Linked DNA regions of Homo sapiens: regions 1, 2, 3, 4 and 6 are each reported to be linked to region 5. The links are microRNA targets in miRTarBase. Many come from high-throughput screens and were not tested one by one. Region 5 holds a microRNA gene; each other region holds the end of a gene's coding sequence.

Region 1 (3,382 bases), not on the chromosome of region 5:
AAAAAAAACCACCTTCTGAAAAGAAAAGGCAGACCGCAGCATTTTATTTCAACCTAGCGAGCATCGACGATCTGGCTGTGAGGAAAGGATGCATTTTCAAATTAGCTTTCACTATGGTTTTCTCTTCCCTTCTCAAGGGAGAAGATATTAAGAAGAAAATAAAGTGAACTCTTAGATGTTCATCAAAGTTAAATCCTGGCTGGGCACGGTGGCTCACATCTGTAATCCCAGCAATTTGGGAGACCAAGGCAGGTGGATCACTTGAGGAGTTACAGACCAGACTGGTCAACATGGCGAAGCCCCATCTCTACTAAAAATACAAAAATTAGCTGGGCGTGGTGGCGTGTGCCCGTAGTAGTCCCAGCTACTTGGGAGGCTGAGGCAGGAGAATCGCTTGAACCCGGGAGGTGGAGGTTGCAGTGAGCCAAGATTGCACCAGTGCACTCCAGCCTGGGCAAGAGTGAGACTCCATCTCAAAAAAAAAAAAAAAAAAAAAGTTAAATCCTGTGCAGACTGGCAGAACTAGAATAAGGGAATATATCCTTATTTCATGTTGTCCAGTGCTGAGCATTGATTTGTAATTTCATTTTACGCAGGCCCAGTGGCTCATGCCTGTTATCCCAGTACTTGGGGAGGCCAAGGTGGGAGGATCGCTTCAGCCCAGGAGTTTGAGACCAGCCTGGGTAACAGTGAGACTTCGTCTCTACAGAAAATAAAAAGACTAAAAATAATTAGCCAGGCATGGTGGCGCACGGTCCATCTACTTGGGAGGCTAGTCCCAGCTCCTTGGGAGCTGAGGCGGGAGGATCGCTTTTGACTTCAGGAGGTCAAGGGTGCAGTGAGCCATGATCGTGCCACTGTACTCCAGTGTGGGTGACAGAGCGAGACTTTTGTCTCAAAAAAATTTTTTTAAATGGTTTCATTTCAGTACAGCTCGGGGGCCATAGAAAGGTCAGGGGAACAGTCACCGATCTAAGGTTCAACTGGGTAAGAAAACATTGGCTGGCGTGGGGACACAAAGATGAGACCACACCCACAGTGCAGCCGGAAAGGAAACTCTGAGCCAAACGCCAGCCAAGAGGTTCAATGAGAAAACAGACGGCCCTTAACTTACAACCGGGCAATTCATCCAAACCGAGCACAGTCTTCCACAGTGGGAAAGGGCAAGTTTTCACAGAACAGATGGAAATGAAGCCACCCCAGCACCTCAGGTGAGGGAGCACGTGACCCAGCAATGCTGTGGGTCAGCGTGGGCTCACCCGGGAGCGCTCAGTATCAGGAAACATGAGGGCACCGATCACATTCTAAATCTCAGTGCTCATGGTATATAGATTTAAGTAACGAAATGGAGATTCATTATAAAAGTCAGTTTATTTTCCCTTTCTGTGTTTCGTATTTTCCCTTTTTGTCAGTAAATGAGCAATACACTGATTGGAAATCTGCATGATTAAATAACATTAACAAGTTCATAAACACACCCCATATCAGAGTATAAAGCAAGAGGTTGAAAAATATCCCCTAACCGAATGCAAATTAGGTATCCCTCAAAATTGCACATTCTCCTCCTAGTTTGCTTGCATAATTTAAAATATGTATATACAGAATGATCTTAAAATATTGATAACTAGTATGGAATTCACAGCCCTGAAGATATATATACTCTACATTTTTCTAAAGAACGGACACCCCTCAGGCCCTAGTAATCCATTCATGTGATTCAATGTCATGTACAGACAGTCCTCAGCTTCTGATTTTTGGACTTTACAATGGTGTGAAATGGTTGCAATTTCAACATAATGTACAATATTCAATAAATTACATGATATATTCAACACTCGATTATAAAATAGAGTTTGTGTTAGATGATTCTGCCCAACTGTGGGCAATTCTAAGTGTTCTGAGTACATTTAGGGTGGACGAGGCTAAGCTGTGGTGTCCAGTCAGGGGTATTAAATGCATTTGACTTCCAATGGGTTTACTGGGACATAACCCCATCATAAGTCAAAGAGCATCTGTACTTGACACTTACTAGAAGAAAAGGTCTTTCCCTTTTCTCTAATTCTAGTCTTCTGCTGAGGTAACTCCAGGAAGCTGCTTGTGCCAGAGATCAATCCTCTAAAAATAGACTAAGCAGATTAGCTTCCTAGAGGATCCTAAGTTCCCAGACAACAAATCTGGGATGGAGTGCTTCGGCTGTGAGTTACACGTCGGAATGTTCAAGATAAATGATGTACCTTATGGTCCTTTACACGTCAGAATGTTCAAGATAACTGATGTACCTTATGGTCCTTGAAAGGAAGACTCAATACTTCCAGGAGTCAAAGTTAATTTGAATGAAAATGGAAGAGAACAAGTTGACAATAATTTGAAGCAATTCATGCTTCTAGGGCTGAATGACGTTTAGATCAGACACAGAGTGACTGAGCCAATCAACAGGCATGTAGTGTGATCTTTCCCACCACAGTGAACAGAGGGATTCTTTGTCCAAGGCAGGCTTGCAGCTCGGTCCAGCTTGAGCATTTGATCAGGATTTGATGCTTCAAAGATGACCCACTCTCTGTAAACTCATTACCAAAGCAAAATGCAATGATCTCTTCCATTTGTGGAACATACCACCAACACAAACCACGCGTGGCTTTGCCTCCTGTTCACTCCATTTTCAAGGCTAGAGAAAGTTCAAGTCCAAAACAACAGTTAAGGTTAAAACGCTAAACCTCAATAGGCCAAACAAAGACGCGGGCAGAGTCAGAGGTCAAAGATGCTGGCAGAGTCAGAAGTCACTCGGCACATTCATGAAACAACAGCAAAAATCATCAACAGTAATTCCTGTAGTGTAGAAAACTAGTGCAGCCTTCACTGCTGGTCAGCATCTCAGGTGGCTGGCAGTGTTGAGAGACGCCTGACAATCCAAGATCAGGCTGGAGCTCCTAGACAAACCCAAATTAGGGCAGACTCGAAGCCCCAGCGGTCCTGATGTGGCTGACATTGTTCTTTCTGTCTCGCGGGCACCGGTCACTCCCTCAATATGTGAGCCTGTCTCCTTAGCACGAGAGAGAATATTTCCCTCACTATTAATGGCGAGATAAACACAATTGTACAACTTGTCTGTAAAGAGAAAATAGTATTAAATATGCAGCAACAGTTTACTTCTGTTAGAGTGTCATGTTTTGAACATAATAATGGATTTGGACAATTACATTCATTTTGACTTCATACAAAGATAATGTTTAATCTTCAATGAATTAGAAAATGATTTTGAAAATTATGGCTAATATTACAAAACACTCAACATCACATTTCAGTTCCCAAAAAAAGAACAATACATACAAATAATTTGCCATAGGCGGAGCAGAGAACTGAGACCAGAGGCTCAGATGAACAA
Region 2 (3,000 bases), not on the chromosome of region 5:
CTGAAATAACAGTCCTAAGAACTCCTAAAGTCCTGAGAACTTTTCTTGTAATGCAGCTTTTTCTCTTCCTGAGAAACAGTGTGTTCTAATGGGATTCCCAGGCAGTTCCTACACCTACGGTGTGTGTTCCAGCAGGGAGGAGTTATGGGCTGGGCTGCCTTTTCCCATGGGTCTTCATTCCCAATGGAAAGTTCACTCTGCTTAGTTTGGAATTATTTTTCTTTCAGTTGTTCTGGAACCTTTGCTTTTTATTGATTTATACAATACAATTGGTGGGAGGGTGGACTTGGGATGGGAGTGGGAAAAGCATGTAAGAGCTCCTTTTGTGATGGTCCATCTACCCAAAAGAGATCTGCTTTAGTGAACGATACTCTTTCATTTTTCTAAATTAGATCAAGTTGTTATTGATTTTAGATGACTTGTATGCAAATTTGAAAAACTTTTTTTTTTAAAGCTGATTGGGAACTACAAACAATGAATGGAATCTACTGACACAGCTAATTGGAAAACAGATGTCTTCTTCTGTCCTATTGATGCTGGTGTTTAAAAAACATCACTTAAAAAAAAAGAATAAATAGTTCTAAAAGCAAGTTTGGCAATTTCTACTTTTCCTACTTTTCTCCAACCCCCCTTAGAAAAAGTTCTTCGTTTACTGCCTGGCTGTTCTATGTAACTTTCCATCCCAACCTTTCTCCCATTAGCAGCAGTGATTCTGGGCATTGCTGGAGTGAACAGGAGGGCTTGGGCAGAGTATCTGAAGAGCTTCCCCTTCCTTTATACCTTCTCCCACCCCAAATTTGGAATTACTGCTTTTATGTTCTCAACTCCAGCTGCACATAAAATCACTAAGGAAGCTTTTTAAAAACACTGGTGCCAAGATTTCACCTCATACCAATTCTTTGGAATTTTCTGGGGTAGGACTGGGGGCTTCAGTGCTTCAAATATAGCCAGGAATGAGATTCCACTGTGTTAGTCAGTGGTTCTCAATCCTAGTTATTAATTAGAACCACCTAGGAAAATTTTTAAAAATACTAAAGCCCAGGCTCCACCCCCAGAGATTGATTTAATTGGTCCAAAGCAGACCTAGTAGGGCTGGCCACAGTGGCTCACGCCTGTAATCCTCACACTTTAGGAGGCCGAGGTGGGAGGATCATTTGAGACCAGGAGTTGAAGTCCCCATCTCTACAAAAAAATAAATGAATAAAGTAGACCTGGGCATGAGTACGTTCAAAGGTCCCAGGTGATTCTAATATTCTGGTAGATTTATAAACTGCTTGAGATGCTACTTCATTTCTCATCATAGATACTTAATATTCTAGAAAGAGAAAGTTTTGTCCATGTGGGAAAAAATGTTACCTGTTTCTCAGTTACTTCATAATCACTTATGTGGTTGGTGGCTAATAAATTCTGCTTCACCTCCACTTAAGAGTTCAAACACAATTTCACTTATCTTTTTAGCTCTGGGGAAATAGCATGCACCTTCATAGGTTTTTTTTGTTTGTTTTTAAGTGGTCTTCACTATGCCTTTTTTTCCCAGATCGTATCATCATCCTAAATTTTTTACTCTTTACAGAGTGACATTTTCCCTCTGATTAACTTTCCCTGAGCCATCCTTCCCTCTTCATTTTCTTGAGGAAACAGCTCTAAGATTAAAGACAGGAAAGAGACAGAGAACCTATAAATCAATGGCAATTAGCATTTAAAATGTTCTGAATGAATGCCTGAACCTTCCCTTTCACTTTGTTTTCATAGGCCTTATGGCTCTGGGGATTTGATATGGCATGATAAGGAAGCAGGAATGGGGAATGAGGATGAGGTTTGAAGTCAGAACTGAGTTTGAGTTCTACTTGAATAATATTGAAGGAGACATTATGTAATCAATCACCTTGAGCTCCAGTGTCCTCCTTTCTGAAGTCAGGCTGTCACCATTGCCCTCCAAAAGCTACTATGAGGATTCAATGATGAAATGCCTACCACAGTGCTTGATATTTATTGTTAATTTCTCTTCCCACTAAAGAACTGTGCAAAGAGTATTTGGCTGCCTTATTCCCTGACTCCAGCAACAAACCTTCTCAGTCACTATTTAGAACTGTTTTTAGAGTTTGGCAGTGACAATTTTTCAGACAGCCAGCAAGTAGTGTACTAGAGATAATCCCTTCCTCCACCCCCTGTGATACCCTTAACGTCTTTACTGCTTCATCAGACAAGTGTCTGATACATGGGGCTGACAGTATTACATTCCACTTAGGAAGATGATAACAGGAGAAGCAAAAGCACAGTGACCAGTTGGCATTTATTAGTGTAGTTACAATTTGTCACTGTAGTAAAAGTAGTAGAGGAACCAAGACTCTTTGTTATCACAAAGAAATAAATAAAGCTTATTTTTAGGAAAATTCTAACTGAGTAAGTGATATCTAGCAGTAGCACTAGAGGTGCCCAGCCTTGTGTGACAGATAAAGCTGGGGCAGAAGTCATGTTAAATTCTACCTAAAAGGAGCTCCCACCCACTGCCTGCTCCTCCAGCTCCTGGCCAGAACTGGTCATGGCTGCAAGGTACAGAATAAAAGGAAACCTAATGAAAAAAACAGCTAAAACACTGAGAAGATGTGGACTTATTAGGGTGTGAGCTGACCATGATCAGGTAATCTATTCCCCTCACTCCAGAGAGGTTTAGACGGCAGCTTCCCCGGACCGCTTCCGGGTGATGTGCTCCAGGTGGGCATGGTCTGAAGTGTCCAAGTCAATCTCGTACTTGGCTAGGATTTTGAGGATGGGCCTCAGTTTCAGCCACCACTGTTCCTTGGGGATTCGATGCCTACAGAGGAATGAGGTAGATGATGATATAATCTTTTAGCACCCCAATCAACTTCTACCAAAGGTTTATAGGAAGAAGTTAGACAGAAGAGGTTAGATTTAGGACATGTGCATCACATCTGAAATGGGTAAGAATACAGGTGTTACTCCTTAAAAAAAAAAAAGAATTAAAGACAGTGAACAGGT
Region 3 (3,351 bases), not on the chromosome of region 5:
ACCCCGAGGGAGCGGGGGCCTGCTACGGCCGAGGCGTCTGCCCATGCTCCGGGGAGGGCGTGACCCATCACAGACCCCCTTTGCTCTTTGACCTCTCCAGGGACCCCTCCGAGGCACGGCCCCTGACCCCCGACTCCGAGCCCCTGTACCACGCCGTGATAGCAAGGGTAGGTGCCGCGGTGTCGGAGCATCGGCAGACCCTGAGTCCTGTGCCCCAGCAGTTTTCCATGAGCAACATCCTGTGGAAGCCGTGGCTGCAGCCGTGCTGCGGACATTTCCCGTTCTGTTCATGCCACGAGGATGGGGATGGCACCCCCTGAATGCCAGGACTGTGAGAGAGGATCCAGGAGAGCCTGACTGCGTTGCAAACAAAATTCTCCAAGCTTGGTTCTATCTTCAGCTTCCCTTTTTGCAAGGAACATGCCCTGGACTGAGAGTGGGTCCCCACTTTCTTTCTTTCTTTCTTTCTTTTTTGAGACAGAGTGTCGCTCTGTCCCTCAGGCTGGAATGCAATGGCACGATCTCTGCTCACTGCAACCTCCGCCTCCCGGGTTCAAGCGATTTTCCTGCCTCAGCCTCCTGAGTACCCAGGATTACAGGCACCAGGCACCTGCCACCATGCCTAGCTAATTTTTGTAGTTTTAGTAGAGACAGGGTTTCACCATGTTGCCCAGGCTGGTCTCGCACTCCTGACCTCAAGTCATCCACCTGCCTCAGCCTCCCAAAGTGCTGGGATTACAGGCACGAGCCACTGCGCCCATGTAGGGTTTCCCTTTCCTGATTTGTGAAATAAGACTGTCCCAGTAGGCACCCACTGATGCCTCCTCTTCCTCTTCTAAATCTCAGGGTTCGTCATTGTGCCAATGCCCGATGTTTTCACCCCTCCGTCTTAAAGCATTGTTGCAATTTCATCACCTAGATGACATAACAGCCTTACAAAAGGACAGGGAGGAGTGTCTGTTCCTACTCTCACATAGCGGAGGAAAGTTAGAGCCTCTCAGTCTCTGTTTATGAGGACTCATTAATCTCAAATAATTGATGCATTTTTCATACATTAGGGTCTCTGTCCATGTGTCTTCCTGATATTGTTATAGAAATGGCTTCAGGCTGCTGGTAACAGATGCTGCGGAAAAAGAATGCCTTAAACAAAGCCAGGCACGGTGACTCACACCTGTAATCCCAGCACTTTGGGAGGCTAAGGTGGGAGGATCACTTGAGCCTAGGAGTTAGACACCTACCCAGCCTGAGCAACACAGTGAGACCTCATCTCTACAAAAAACAAATAATTAGCTAGATGTCGTGGCGCACAGCTGTAGTCTCAGCTACTTAGGAGGCTGAGGCGGGAGGATTATTTGAGCCTGGGAGGTCAAAACTGCAATGAGCTAAGATTGCACTACTGCACTCCGGGCTGGGAGACAGAGTAAGACCCTGCCTTAAAAAAAAAAAAAAAAAAATGCCTTAAAGAAAATAATAAGAGAAGGGTGTGTTCTCTTCCAAGTAATGAGCCGATCAAGGGGAAGCAACCCAAGGCTAGCAGGCTCTTTTCAATTCCCAGCTCTGCCACTCTTAGCATGGCAGAGAGTTGGCCTCATTATGCCAGTATGGCTGCCACAGTGTCAGACATCACATTCCAGGCAGTGGAAAGGAGAAAGAACCAAAGGGCATCCCTTTCTCTTGAAGCAGTCCCTGTGAGGGGGGATTATCTGGAAGCCCCAACCCAATTTCTGCTTCCAACCATTATCCATAGAAACAACTGGAAGTTGAGAAGTGCAGTCTTTTAGGTGGGCACCTGGCTGCCCTGTATGAAACCAGAATTAGGTTGGTCAGCAGGAAAACAAGAAAACACTTACTGTGTTGACTGAGGTTTTTGACGCATCGCTTTATTGTCAAATTAAACAACTCTATCTCATTCTGCACTGAAACACGTACTACCATTGCCTATAATTGGAAAATGATCCTCAGAGGCACAGAAGATGCCCTGATGGAAAGTTTGCCCCTTGGGCAAAGAGACAGCCATGGGAACCTTCAGACATAGAGAGAGAAGGTGGCTTTTCTCCCTACATTCCTCAAATAGCTAAGATTTGGCCAGTGTGTTTTCTAAGTCAATTCTAGTGTGTTTCATCCTCACCTCTTCCCTCTGTGGCTTTGATGATGGAAGTGTAGTCCTAACCTACTGCACAGCTGGGACCCCCTGCCCCTAGATCCCAATACTGGGGATGGGAGGACCTTGCACTATTCCCCTCAGTCCATCTATCGAGGTCTTTGCAGGAAGCATACTGGGAATTGAAACGAGAGCCTAAATGACATCTAAGAAAGGCAGTGTTCAATACCAGGTATTAGGTGAGGATGGGATTCTAAGGACATCAGTGGGAGGCAGGGAGCCACCTTCAGACCTCAGCATGGAAGCTTCCAAGATCCAGAGGAAGAGGCAACAGCACTGAGAGTCATAGGTAGAAGAATCATCACAGCCCTGCTAACCAGGCAGCTGATGCCCCTCTCCCCTGGCTCCCTGTGTCCAAATCCTACAGGGGCATCTGTTGGCTGAACTCAACCTGAAGCCAAAGAGAAGATGAGTGGAGAGAGGCAACATTTATAGAGCTCAGGTTTCTAGGGCTGGAGAGGGATCTGGAGGGACACACAGGAGACACCTGGCATAACCAAAAAATGATTAAAAAAAAAAAAAAAAAGAAACATCTATGGAGCATGGGACACGGGGAGTGGAGGCAGCTAAAAGCCATCTCATCTTTCACCGTATTCAACAAGCCCATTATAACAAGTCTTTCACGCTCAACCATTCAAACAATCCCAACAATCCCAGCCTAAGAATTTCCTGGCATTTGATGAAAATGGCTGTGGGTTTTGCTATCTTTAAGCTCCCTGGGAAGCAGGATATAAGCCCAGGGCTGGCAGGCTCTTTCTAGCTACCTGCTCTTGCACATAGAGTTTGCCTCATGGTTGCAAGAAGGCTGCCATAGCTCCAGATGGCACATAGACATTCCAGGCAGCAGGAAAAAGGAAGGAGCACTTAACCGAAGGAGGTCAGGGAGTTGGTTAGTCTCCACCTGAAGAAGAGAGCCATGAACCAGCTTCAGTTGACTAACGGGCTCCTGTGAGTGCATCTTTGGACTTTTCTGGAGGTTGAAATCTAGATGTGGTATGTGTCTTAAAGCAGCCACCAACTCCTCCCATTACCTTCCAAGTGAGCCCAACTACACGATGGAGCCTCTTCCCTGCCCTTGGATCTGGGCTGAGCCTCTGACTTGCGTTGACCAACAGAATGCAGTGAAAGTGATGCCGATACTACCCTCCCTGCCCTAGACTTGGGATACCTGGCAGCTATATTCTTCCATT
Region 4 (3,382 bases), not on the chromosome of region 5:
GTATTGCATTATGAAGCTTCCTCACATATTGAGTTCTTAATCTTTTCTGATGCATTAAAGGTTTATAAAAGTGGTATTCTAAAACTGTATTGGATTTCATTAAAAAATTCTTTTTAGTAGATTTATTGATTGAGTAATACATTTGGACAGCCTCATCATAAAACCGCATTTCAAATATTTTCCAAAACAAAACAAAGGATTAACAATTCTTTGAACAGATTAAACATTGCTATTTCATATGTACACATATATACTTATATACTTTAAAAAACATTTATATTCTAAAAGTCATCTTTACAGAACATTATCTTTCTCCATTATCCAGAAAGTATGGTGTATTTTGGCACCGCTAAATTTTAACGTTGTTCCTTATTTTGCTTCCTTTTACAAAGGACTCTACATCAACAGATGATATGTGGTAAAACTGCTCATCTAGCCATGGAGTTTACCTTCACCTCCAAAGGAGAGTACAGCTCAACTTTGTTGAAACTTTTAACATCCATCCTCAACTTTAAGGAAGGGGATATGACATGGGTGAGAATGATTACATCAGAGAACTTCAGCAGTACAACAGCTAGCCCAGAACTGATTTTTTTTTTTTTTTTTGTAAATTTGAGACTTATGTAAGCGTGATTTCAAACCATAATTCGTGTTGTAAATCAGACTCCAGCAATTTTTGTTGTATGATTTTGTTTTTTTGTAAAGTGTAATTGTCCTTGTACAAAATGCTCATATTTAATTATGAACTGCTTTAAATCACTATCAAAGTTACAAGAAATGTTTGGCTTATTGTGTGATGCAACAGATATATAGCCCTTTCAAGTCATGTTGTGTTTGGACTTGGGGTTGGAACAGGGAGAGCAGCAGCCATGTCAGCTACACGCTCAAATGTGCAGATGATTATGGAAAATAACCTCAAAATCTTACAAAGCTGAACATCCAAGGAGTTATTGAAAACTATCTTAAATGTTCTTGGTAGGGGAGTTGGCATTGTTGATAAAGCCAGTCCCTTCATTTAACTGTCTTTCAGGATGTTCCTTCGTTGTTTCCATGAGTATTGCAGGTAATAATACAGTGTATTCATAAGAATCTCAATCTTGGGGCTAAATGCCTTGTTTCTTTGCACCTCTTTTCAAGTCCTTACATTTAATTACTAATTGATAAGCAGCAGCTTCCTACATATAGTAGGAAACTGCCACATTTTTGCTATCATGATTGGCTGGGCCTGCTGCTGTTCCTAGTAAGATATTCTGAATTCCATTTTATCAATAAAGCTTGATTTAACAAACAAGAAACTTAATCATGTATGTGTAATTCCTCTTTTACCCTGGCCTTTTAAAACACTGTGCCGTTGTAATGAGACGTTTCTCATAGGGAAAGATGTTAGTCTCTTTTAATTGGACAACACTGTCACTCAAGGCATAGATGAAACTTTCCTTCCATTAGAAAGACTAAAAGATTTAATTCTTGGTTGTACCTTAATCTATTTTTTAAATAGGTTTCTTTCAGGCTGCTTATTTTTCATTAAGATGTGTATCAGCTTGGATTTGCCTACTGTTTAATTAAAATATTTATTGTCAAAGTTTGACAATCTAACACTCTATGGTAGGGGTGTGTGTGTGTGTGTTTGTGAGTGTGTGTTTGCCTGTGATTTTTAATTGGCCCATGTCTTTAGAATCCAAGTGGTTAAGATGTATTTGTGATTTGAAATATAGCATGTTGATAATATTTAGCTGTTGGCCTTTACAAATAACTTTCAAAGCTTAAGGAATTGTAGATATAAAAATAACCTAATTTAATTTAGGCTTAAATTCCTCTGATTAAGCATGTGAAAGTAAGTTTTAAAATCTGTCGCATTGAAAAGATTACTGTTCCGTGCCCTTCTGTATTTTTGTCTCTTTAGGTTGAATATTGTATTTATCACCATGTAATCATTCAGTAGGCAGATTCCCACTAGAAAACTGTTGAAATGTAAGACTAAAATACAACATTGAATACAAAATCAAAATTTTGTGTATAAAAACCAGTATAGTCCATTTTGTTATATTTGTTTTTTCCCTAACTTGGAAATATACATATTTGTATATATAGCCTTAAAATTAATGTAAAGTTAGGGGAGTAGTGGGGAAAGTAATGTGAAATGTCTCAGATTTAAGTAGTTAAATACCAGCAAAATCTTTTCATTATCCCTCTTATTTTGTGAGGTGATTAAATGTAACTTAATTGTATTTAATTTATATCTTATTCCAGCATGAATGAGGAAAAACTGAAGTACTATTTATATTTAGAAATTCATATCAGTTGAAATTACAGAACCAATTCCATACTTACAATAAATACTTAATGTCTAAATCTGTGGTAGAGTGCGAAGTATGATAATGTTCTAAGTTATGGCTTTGCAAGCATCTAAATGTGCATTTAATGAATACCAGTGCTTCTAGTATAGACTAATTACCAGACATACTGGTACTGAAAGCTAAATCCCTATTATAACAAACCAGTTCCTTAATATTTTAAGTAGACTGACAACTTTAGTTCCAGAAATTGCAAAACTTTGAACTGGACTGTGTAATCTTTTGAGATGCAAAACTTAAGTCACAAGTAGAGTATGTGATGGAAAGCTGTATTTCAAACCATAACAGCATATTTAGAGCCTTTTTTTTTTGAGTCTTTAAACAAGAGAAAATTAAAATATTCCTGTCAAAATTATTAGTATTGAAATTAGGCTTGGACACGAGAGAGAACCGTATTTGAGTGATGTGAGAAGACTAAATCTTTTCCACATGAGTCAGCACTGCCATACTAATAATTTTTTTACTATAAAAATACAGGAAGGAAGTATACATTATAACAGCAGACTGTGTGTGTTCCTGATTCCTGGAGGTAATAGTGGGGGGAAACCAACCATACTTTTTAAAGGCACTTTTGCACCTCTATTGTGCACTTCATTCTTGTACCACTTAAATTCTTCACCCCCATCCCCTTTTTTTGTGCTAATTAGCATCTCAGGGCAATGCCTCAAAAATGTTTGATGTGTTCTGTTCTTTGGAGGGAAAAAGTTCTTATGTGATGATAATATAGTACTCAAAATATACTTTTATCATTTAAATGTCTTATTTGCTGCTATGAATAGGAAATAACATTTTGTATAGCAGGCTCTGTTTTACCCTAACATTAAAAAATTTCACTGATCTTTCTTTCATTAACAGGGTAGAATCTCCTAATTTCCACTTTCTTGGGAATATACTTTTATAGACAATAGAAGCAGTTCTCAATATTAGCATATACTTTAAAAAATCAAAGTGATAACTTAATTCAGCTTTGGAAGTATCTCAAACATATTTTTACTTTATAGTGCATTAACTTGCTTCTAGAGTACTTA
Region 5 (3,382 bases):
GCCAGGAGATGGGGTGTTGAGGGGTGTTGGGAGCTGAGAAGTTGCAGGTGCTCAGTGGCAAAAGGCACTGGGGGTGGCCGGAAAATCTCCAGGGCCAAGTGGAGGGCAGCCGGACAGAAAGCTCCTAGGGAAGGGCATGGATTGGAGCTGGGTGCGGTGGGACGGGGCAGGCCCAGGGGATAGAGCCAGCGGGTCAGTGTGCCCTCCCCTGCCCAGGGGACACCAAGGCTGGCCCCCACCATGCCATCCTGTGGGCAGCAGATGGACCGAGCTTCCTCAAAGCCTGGCTCAGCTCAGGTGTCCTGATTTGGAAGCCGGGCTCAGCTCAATACTCCGAAGTTGGGAGGGATGCTGTACTGTCAGTTCCCCTCTGGGATGAGGGGCTCCATGGACCAGCAGCTGCAGAACGGGGTTTCCCCATGGTTCCCAGGACAGAAGCAGCACCAGAGGGGCCTGGCAGTGGGTTTGGCAAGGGGACGGATTCGAGGCAGCAGGTGGCACACGGGAGCCCTGCTGCCTGGCAGAGGCAGCACCACCTTCTCAGGGACAGTGAGGTCCCCGCACCTCAGAGGCTGGAAGGGCCTTGAGCCCCCGCTGTCCAGAGCCTGGTGTGTGGCCAGCAGATAGCAGCCAGCAACATGGTCTCCCGTGTTTGACAGAGTCCATGTTCCCTTCCCAGCCCCAGAGGGGCAAGGTGGGGTGACTGGGATCTGGGAGGGAGATGGGGGTCCCCCTGTAGCCCCTGAGACCCTGACCTCTCAGGGGTATCTGAACCCCAGAATTGGGAACTGGGCAGGCTCTGGTCACTCTGCCAACCCTATGTCCCCCTGGCGAAGCCAGGGTGGTGTCCAGTGGCTGGCTGCAGGACTGCAGGCTCTGGCCACCTCCTCGCCACACTGTGAGGTGTGGGGTCTGGGGTGAGAGGTCAGGGTGCTGAGGCCCAGCCTGGAATGCAGCAAGTCCAGGTGGGGCTGTGGAGCCCAGAGCAGGGGCAGGGGCCTGGCCGGCCCTCAGCCATGGCCACTCTCACCACACTGCTCTCCCGCAGACGGCGCCCCGCTCAGCGAGCTGTCCTGGCCATCCTCCCTCGCCGTGGTGGCTGTGTCTTTCTCCGGGCTCTTCGCCGTCATCGTCCTCATGCTGGCCTGCCTGTGCTGTAAGAAGGGCGGTATCGGGTTCAAGGTGAGGCCTGGGGGCCGCGGGAGCTGTCGTGGGATCCCGCAGGCAAGGCCTGTAGCGTCCACTTGACCCTGAGCTTCCCTCCTTCCTGGGGCCATCAAGGTGGCTGCTGGGTGGCCGTAGTTGCTGTGGGGCCACCTGGGGACCACGTGGACCCTGGCCCAGGGACTCCATAGCTCCTCCTCAGGGACCTGCCCCAGCTTCCTCGACTTTGAGGCCCTCTGTGGGGGGCGTGGTCTGACGCTCCCACTCCAGCCTGGGGTTGGGCCCGAGCACTCACGGAGGCTGAGGACAGCCTTGCAGGGGGCGTCGGGGGCTCTGGAGCTGGTGTGGGAGGGGGCTTGCCTCCCTAGAGGCCCGACTCCTGGTGGAGGAGCTGCCTCTGCAAGGGGCTCTCACGTCCCTCCGAATTCAATCTGCAAAGGGGAGTCCGGGCTGCCCAGACAAGCTTCCCGGCACAGGGACCTTCTTGCCAGTTGGAGTCACCTTGCGCGGGGTATCTTCTGCCTTCTGGAGGGGACGATGTGTGATGCTAGAGCCCAGCCTGCTGGTTAGGGAGCCCCGCCAAGGGTGAGGCCTGGCCTCACTAGGCTGCCCCTCTGGAGGCCAAGGCCCCTGGCCAAGGACAGGTGCCAAGCACTGCTCCTCCCCCTGCAAACCCCCAGCCCACCTCCAGCTGTAACTCTGAGCAGCAGGGAGGGCCAGGCAGAAGGAACCCCGGCCAGCATCGCCTCCCCCTCCCAGAGTCTCCATGGGTCCCATTCCTGCTGATGAGCAAATGACACCCTGGCCTGGACCTCTGGTGGTTCACACGCCCACGGGGGTCAGCCCCACCCCTGGGCCAGAGGTCAGATTCCTACGCCAGGAGAAGTCAGGGAGGGAGGAGGGTGGGAGGAGGCATTCTGCAGCGCGCACAGCACCCTGTCTGTATCTCAGGGTGCCTTCCTACTAAGTGACCCATGACTCAGCTGGCGCCACCCCCATTTGGGAGACAGTCCCAGAGTCCTCCCTGCCCCTGGTATGTCATGACGCAGAATGGGCCAAGGAGCTGGCTCTGCCCACCTGTCCCGCTGGCCTGGCAGGTGACGGTGCTGGATGTGGCCTTTTTGCCTTTTCTAAAGGCCACATTTTCCAGCCCATTCAACCTTCCAGAGCCCTCTGAAGTGGCCACAGGCCCCATCAACCAGTGAGGAGCTGCGTGCCTGGGGGGCAAAGCTGTGGCCCCAGGCTGTGGGGTCTGCACTCCTGCCCAGAGCCCCCACCCTGCTCTGGGATGTACCCCTGACCCGCTGGCACCAGGGGCCAGGCCAGGCCGCGCAGGCGCCTTCCTGGGGATCCCGAGGCCAGAGCCTCAAGGTCTTGGCGGGAGCAGGAGTGGAGGTGGGGCCTGGGTGGGACGAGTGGGGCTATTGTATAAGTGGCCCCTCCTTGGGGCACTGTAAGAACAAGGCCCCAAACAAGGGCTGGCCATAGCTCCTCCTCCTGCGCCCTCCTCACCTCCTTGGGAACATGGTGCCCGGAACATTCCAGCACCAGTGTGCCCCTGGGAAGTCCTGCCTCCACACTGGGCTCCCTCCTGGGATTTGGGGACCTGCGCTGGGCTCCCTGGTGGGGAGCTGTGCTGAGGGAAGGGGCTGGGCAGGCCCCCAATGCTGACCCTGTGCTACCTGATTGCACGCTGTATCGGCAGGACCCGGCTGGCCCCCGGGCAGCAGGTAATGCCTGGAGCCCGGGCCCGACCCCAGGGAGAGACAGCATCTGTGTCCTGGGCCCCTCTACAAAGCCCAGATGGGTGGGGCCAGGCCGGGGCTGGGATTGGAGGGCCCAAGAGGGGGCTTCTGGGGTGGTCTTCTGGGTCCCGGGGAGGGGAAGTTGCCCACGCAGCACCTGCGTCCCCCATCCCTGAGTGGCTGTGTGCTCCGAAAGGGCAGGCTGGGCCTGGCCTGCGGGAATACCGACAGAGCCACCTGCCCCTCTCTTTGCAGCCCAGGGAAGGGAGGCGTCCCCAGGGTCACACGTCGTACTTGAGGAGCCCAGGCCTCCCCTCCCACTGCACCTGCCTGTCCTCGGACTCACCAGCCCGGGTGCTGGCCAGCATCCAGCTGGAAGTCCCTTGACTCCTCTGAGCCTCAGCTTCCCCACCAGGGCACTGGGGGTTGTGAGGAAGGACAGAAAGGCTGTACCAAGTGCTCAGGGATTGGGG
Region 6 (3,382 bases), not on the chromosome of region 5:
ACCCCTCCCCTTAAGTGTAGCCTAGACTTAGTACTCATGAATATAGCAGAAGTGATGGTGACTTAAGAGACTGGGTCATAAAAGGCACCCTGGCTTCTGGCTTGCTCTCTCCTTTCTGATTACTTACTCGGGGGGATGTCAGTTGCTACAAGATGAAGGCCTTTAGCCCTGGGAGGCCCACAAGGTGAGAAACTGAGACCTCTATTAACAGCCAGCAAGGAACTGAAGGCTCCTGCCTGAAGTGATCTTGGGAGCAGACCTTGTAGGCCCCAGTCCAGCATTCAGATGACTGCAGCCCCTGCCAACATTTGACAGCTGCCTCCACAACACTGGGGGAGATACTGCCCAGAATTTGAGGAGTCTGCTGACAACCTCTGGGAATACAGAATGAGTTAAACTTTTCAGCCACAAACTTTGAGGTCTGAGGGGTGTCTGCATTTGTTCTGTTGGCCATAAAACCCTACATCCCAAGTGACTCTGCTGCAGTTCCATAAATTACTTTTCATCCCTACCCCTTGCCCCCTTCTGAAACCTTATTTCCCACGGTAAATACTTTGGTTATCTATATATAAAGTGCCTGTTCCCCACCTCTTGACATGTCTTCTCTCTTTGGCAGCTCCAGGCAGCAGAAGGCTCAGACCAGAGCAGACCCAGGTCTCCTGAGTCACCAAGACAGAGAGCTTATCCTGGAGGAACACATGATGGTGTGCTGCCCTCTACAAAACCAGGCTTGTGGGCTCACTAGTTCAAGAAGGCAGGACTGAAAAATGGAAACACCGTGGCTCCTAATTATCTAGACTGCCTCATCTCCTACCAGCCAGCAAAAATGATGTAGCCTCTGAGAATATTTACATCACTCATTTGTATGCCTTATCTTTGGTACAGGGAGTTGGGTGAACAGGAGAAAAAGCCAAAAAAGTTATAGAGGTTACAACATGAATCTTTAATCATAAGGGATTGTTCCATCAGGCTAATTTATAAAAAATAGCTCTACTGTTATTATAAAACTGAAAGATACTTTGTTACAAAGTAAAATACATAAAAGTACAACATATGTATTATACATTCAGAATCCCACCACTAGAGATAAGTAGTTATATGTCCTCTCCCACATCTTTTTTTCTCTGTTGCTCTAAACATACACACAGAAAAACATACTAACAAAATGGGGTCATGCTATAATTGTTGTTCTAAAACTCTCCTGGTTCACTAAATACTTCATGAGCAACCTGCATTGTCATTATCTGTGTGCCTGAAGATTTCTAGTGGCTTTCCATTGCATACATATGCCTGAACTTATCTAAAAAATTTCCTACCAATGGAAACTGGAATATTAACATTTGCTATTTTAAAAATGTTTTAAATTTAAAAACTCCACCTTCTGCATGCGTTTTTGCCCAAGTGGGCAACTATCTCCCAAGTATCAATTACTACATATTTACTGCCACTTCAAAGGTTATAGAAATTGAATTGATACGTTAATGAATTCTTTTGAAAACAATGCACGGATTTTCTCTCTCACCAATAAGTACATAAGACTTATTACGTCCATTTTTGCACTGCTATAAAGAACTACCTGAGACTAGGTAATTTGCAAAGGAAAGAGGTTTAACTCACACACAGTTCCACATGGCTGGGGAGGCCTCCGAAAACTTAGTCATGGCAGAACGCAAAAGAGAAATAAGGACCTTCTTCACAAGGGGACAGGAGAGAGACAGCGAGGAAGGGCTACACCTTAAAACCATCAGCTCTCATGAGAACTCACTATCATGAGAACAGCAAGGGAGAAATCTGCCCTCGTGATCCAATCATCTCCCACCAAGGCCCTCCTCTGACACGTGGGGATTAAAATTGAGATGAGATTTGGGTGGGGACAAGAGCCAAACCATATCAGACTGTTTCTACAACCCCCCCCCCCGCCCCCACTGATGGGGGATTTGATGATTCTATTTTAATACTGCTAACCTGCAGGGTGAAATAGCATTTGTGATTTTTAAGATACCTAATATTTGATATGTTAAACTATGAAATGAACTGGAGCAAAACCATTATATTCATGACAGCAATAAAACAAATTCCTAGAAATATGCTTAAGATGACTCAGAACCTATTTTTAACCATCTCTAAGAAATATTACTGAGGGACCATATGAAATACTATCAGTGGTAAAAAAAAAGTCATTTTTTTAAAGTGAAAAAAAATCAGCATTTCAAAGACGCCACATTCTTTCAAAATTAACCTATAAATTCAATGCAATGCCAATTAATAAATTTATTTAATTAATAATTCAATGCAATGCCAATCAGATTTTGCTTTTTGAACCTGGAAAGAAGACATATTTCTGTAGTGTACTACAACTCCTCTGAAAGCTGTAAAGCTTACCTGCAAGATAAAACAGTCATAAAAACATGATAAAAATGTGAGACACACACATCACCCAGATCTGCCAAGAGAACTTTGTTCCTGGTCTTCTCAGAGTGACTTGTTTCAATAAATGTTAATGTTATCTTTTTGTTTTTATAAAGCGATCTTTAAAAAGATATGTACCAAACTGGTTTTAGAAAGGTGGAAACTTGTTTCTACACTGTCCCATTGGTAGCTATCAACCCACACAAAGAATCTATGTCCATAATTAGCACCTTGGAAACATTCTCACCACTTGTACATTGTAAAAGCTCCCTCCCAGGCAGATTCTGATGGAAGTGAGGATTATTACTGAAACCACTGCTGCACTGTTTCTTTAAAGCCTACTCCGCTGCACAACAGACTCTTAAAGACTGAAGTTTGTAACTGAAGTGCTAACCTATTTATCACACATCCAGGTGTTCCCTTCCTATGCAGACTAGAAAATGTAAAATCATCAGTTTCTCCTATAGCCCTCCTACATGTCACTTTCCTATGGTTTTTCTCCTGTGTTGGCTCTCAGATGGATAGAAAGCTCTGAGTCCCAGATGGAATCCTCTATGTACATCTACTTATAAGGGTTCTCGCCTAAATGCACTCTTTGGTGGTTCCGCAGACCTGAGGTATAACTGAAGCCTTTCCCACACACACCACACGTATAGGGCTTCTCTCCAGTGTGGACTCTCTGATGAACATGAAGACAGGAGTTGCGGCCAAAGCCCTTCCCACACTCCTCACATTTATAGGGTTTCTCACCAGTGTGGACCCTCTGATGACCTTGAAGATGTGAGCTCTGACTATAGCCCTTCCCACACACGTGGCATCTGTATGGCTTCTCGCCAGTGTGCACTCTCTTATGACTAAGGAGACCTGAGCCATATCTGAAACCCTTCCCACATTCACAACAAGTGTAGGGTTTCTCTCCTGTGTGCAACCTCTGGTGGGTGCGAAGATTAGAGCCATAACTGAATCCCTTGCC

What was found. Region 5 holds the annotated microRNA hsa-miR-1250-3p (ACAUUUUCCAGCCCAUUCA, at 2,304-2,322, shown strand). A microRNA usually pairs through its seed, bases 2 to 8, with sites in the 3' UTR of a target mRNA and lowers its output. Matches are read on the target gene's strand: a 7mer-m8 pairs with bases 2 to 8, a 7mer-A1 pairs with bases 2 to 7 and ends in A, and an 8mer does both.
Region 1: miRTarBase lists SLC37A3 as a target of hsa-miR-1250-3p. Seed matches in the 3' UTR shown: 7mer-m8 at 2,655-2,661.
Region 2: the mRNA of PFKM is a reported target of hsa-miR-1250-3p. The part of its 3' UTR that is shown has no 7-base or 8-base seed match.
Region 3: the mRNA of ARSD is a reported target of hsa-miR-1250-3p. Seed matches in the 3' UTR shown: 8mer at 1,948-1,955, 7mer-A1 at 2,662-2,668 and 7mer-m8 at 2,843-2,849.
Region 4: miRTarBase lists PPM1A as a target of hsa-miR-1250-3p. The part of its 3' UTR that is shown has no 7-base or 8-base seed match.
Region 6: miRTarBase lists ZNF229 as a target of hsa-miR-1250-3p. Seed matches in the 3' UTR shown: 7mer-A1 at 2,178-2,184.

What each region holds. Positions count from the first base shown.
Region 1 is chr7:140,332,400-140,335,781 of GRCh38, forward strand. SLC37A3 (solute carrier family 37 member 3) reads right to left here. Exons shown (of 15, transcript NM_207113.3): 15 at 1,353-3,105. The coding sequence ends at 3,013. Among named protein-coding and RNA genes, the nearest start is that of SLC37A3, 64 kb to the right of the region's middle.
Region 2 is chr12:48,145,379-48,148,378 of GRCh38, reverse strand. PFKM (phosphofructokinase, muscle) reads right to left here. Exons shown (of 23, transcript NM_000289.6): 23 at 1,975-2,815. The coding sequence ends at 2,671. It overlaps ASB8 (ankyrin repeat and SOCS box containing 8), which reads left to right. Exons shown (of 4, transcript NM_024095.5): 4 at 1-590. Among named protein-coding and RNA genes, the nearest start is that of ASB8, 11 kb to the left of the region's middle.
Region 3 is chrX:2,904,240-2,907,590 of GRCh38, reverse strand. It overlaps ARSD (arylsulfatase D), which reads left to right. Exons shown (of 10, transcript NM_001669.4): 10 at 1-3,351. The coding sequence ends at 320. It overlaps ARSD-AS1 (ARSD antisense RNA 1), which reads right to left and starts at 2,687. Exons shown (of 2, transcript NR_144459.1): 1 at 2,386-2,687; 2 at 1,469-2,023.
Region 4 is chr14:60,292,061-60,295,442 of GRCh38, forward strand. It overlaps PPM1A (protein phosphatase, Mg2+/Mn2+ dependent 1A), which reads left to right. Exons shown (of 6, transcript NM_021003.5): 6 at 393-3,382. The coding sequence ends at 422. Among named protein-coding and RNA genes, the nearest start is that of LINC02322, 29 kb to the right of the region's middle.
Region 5 is chr17:81,132,168-81,135,549 of GRCh38, reverse strand. It overlaps MIR1250 (microRNA 1250), which reads left to right and starts at 2,242; the gene lies at 2,242-2,354. AATK (apoptosis associated tyrosine kinase) reads left to right here. Exons shown (of 14, transcript NM_001080395.3): 2 at 1,049-1,182. It overlaps LOC124904079 (a long non-coding RNA gene), which reads right to left. Exons shown (of 4, transcript XR_007065937.1): 2 at 1-1,154.
Region 6 is chr19:44,425,332-44,428,713 of GRCh38, forward strand. ZNF229 (zinc finger protein 229) reads right to left here. Exons shown (of 6, transcript NM_014518.4): 6 at 923-3,382. The coding sequence ends at 2,972. Among named protein-coding and RNA genes, the nearest start is that of ZNF229, 21 kb to the right of the region's middle.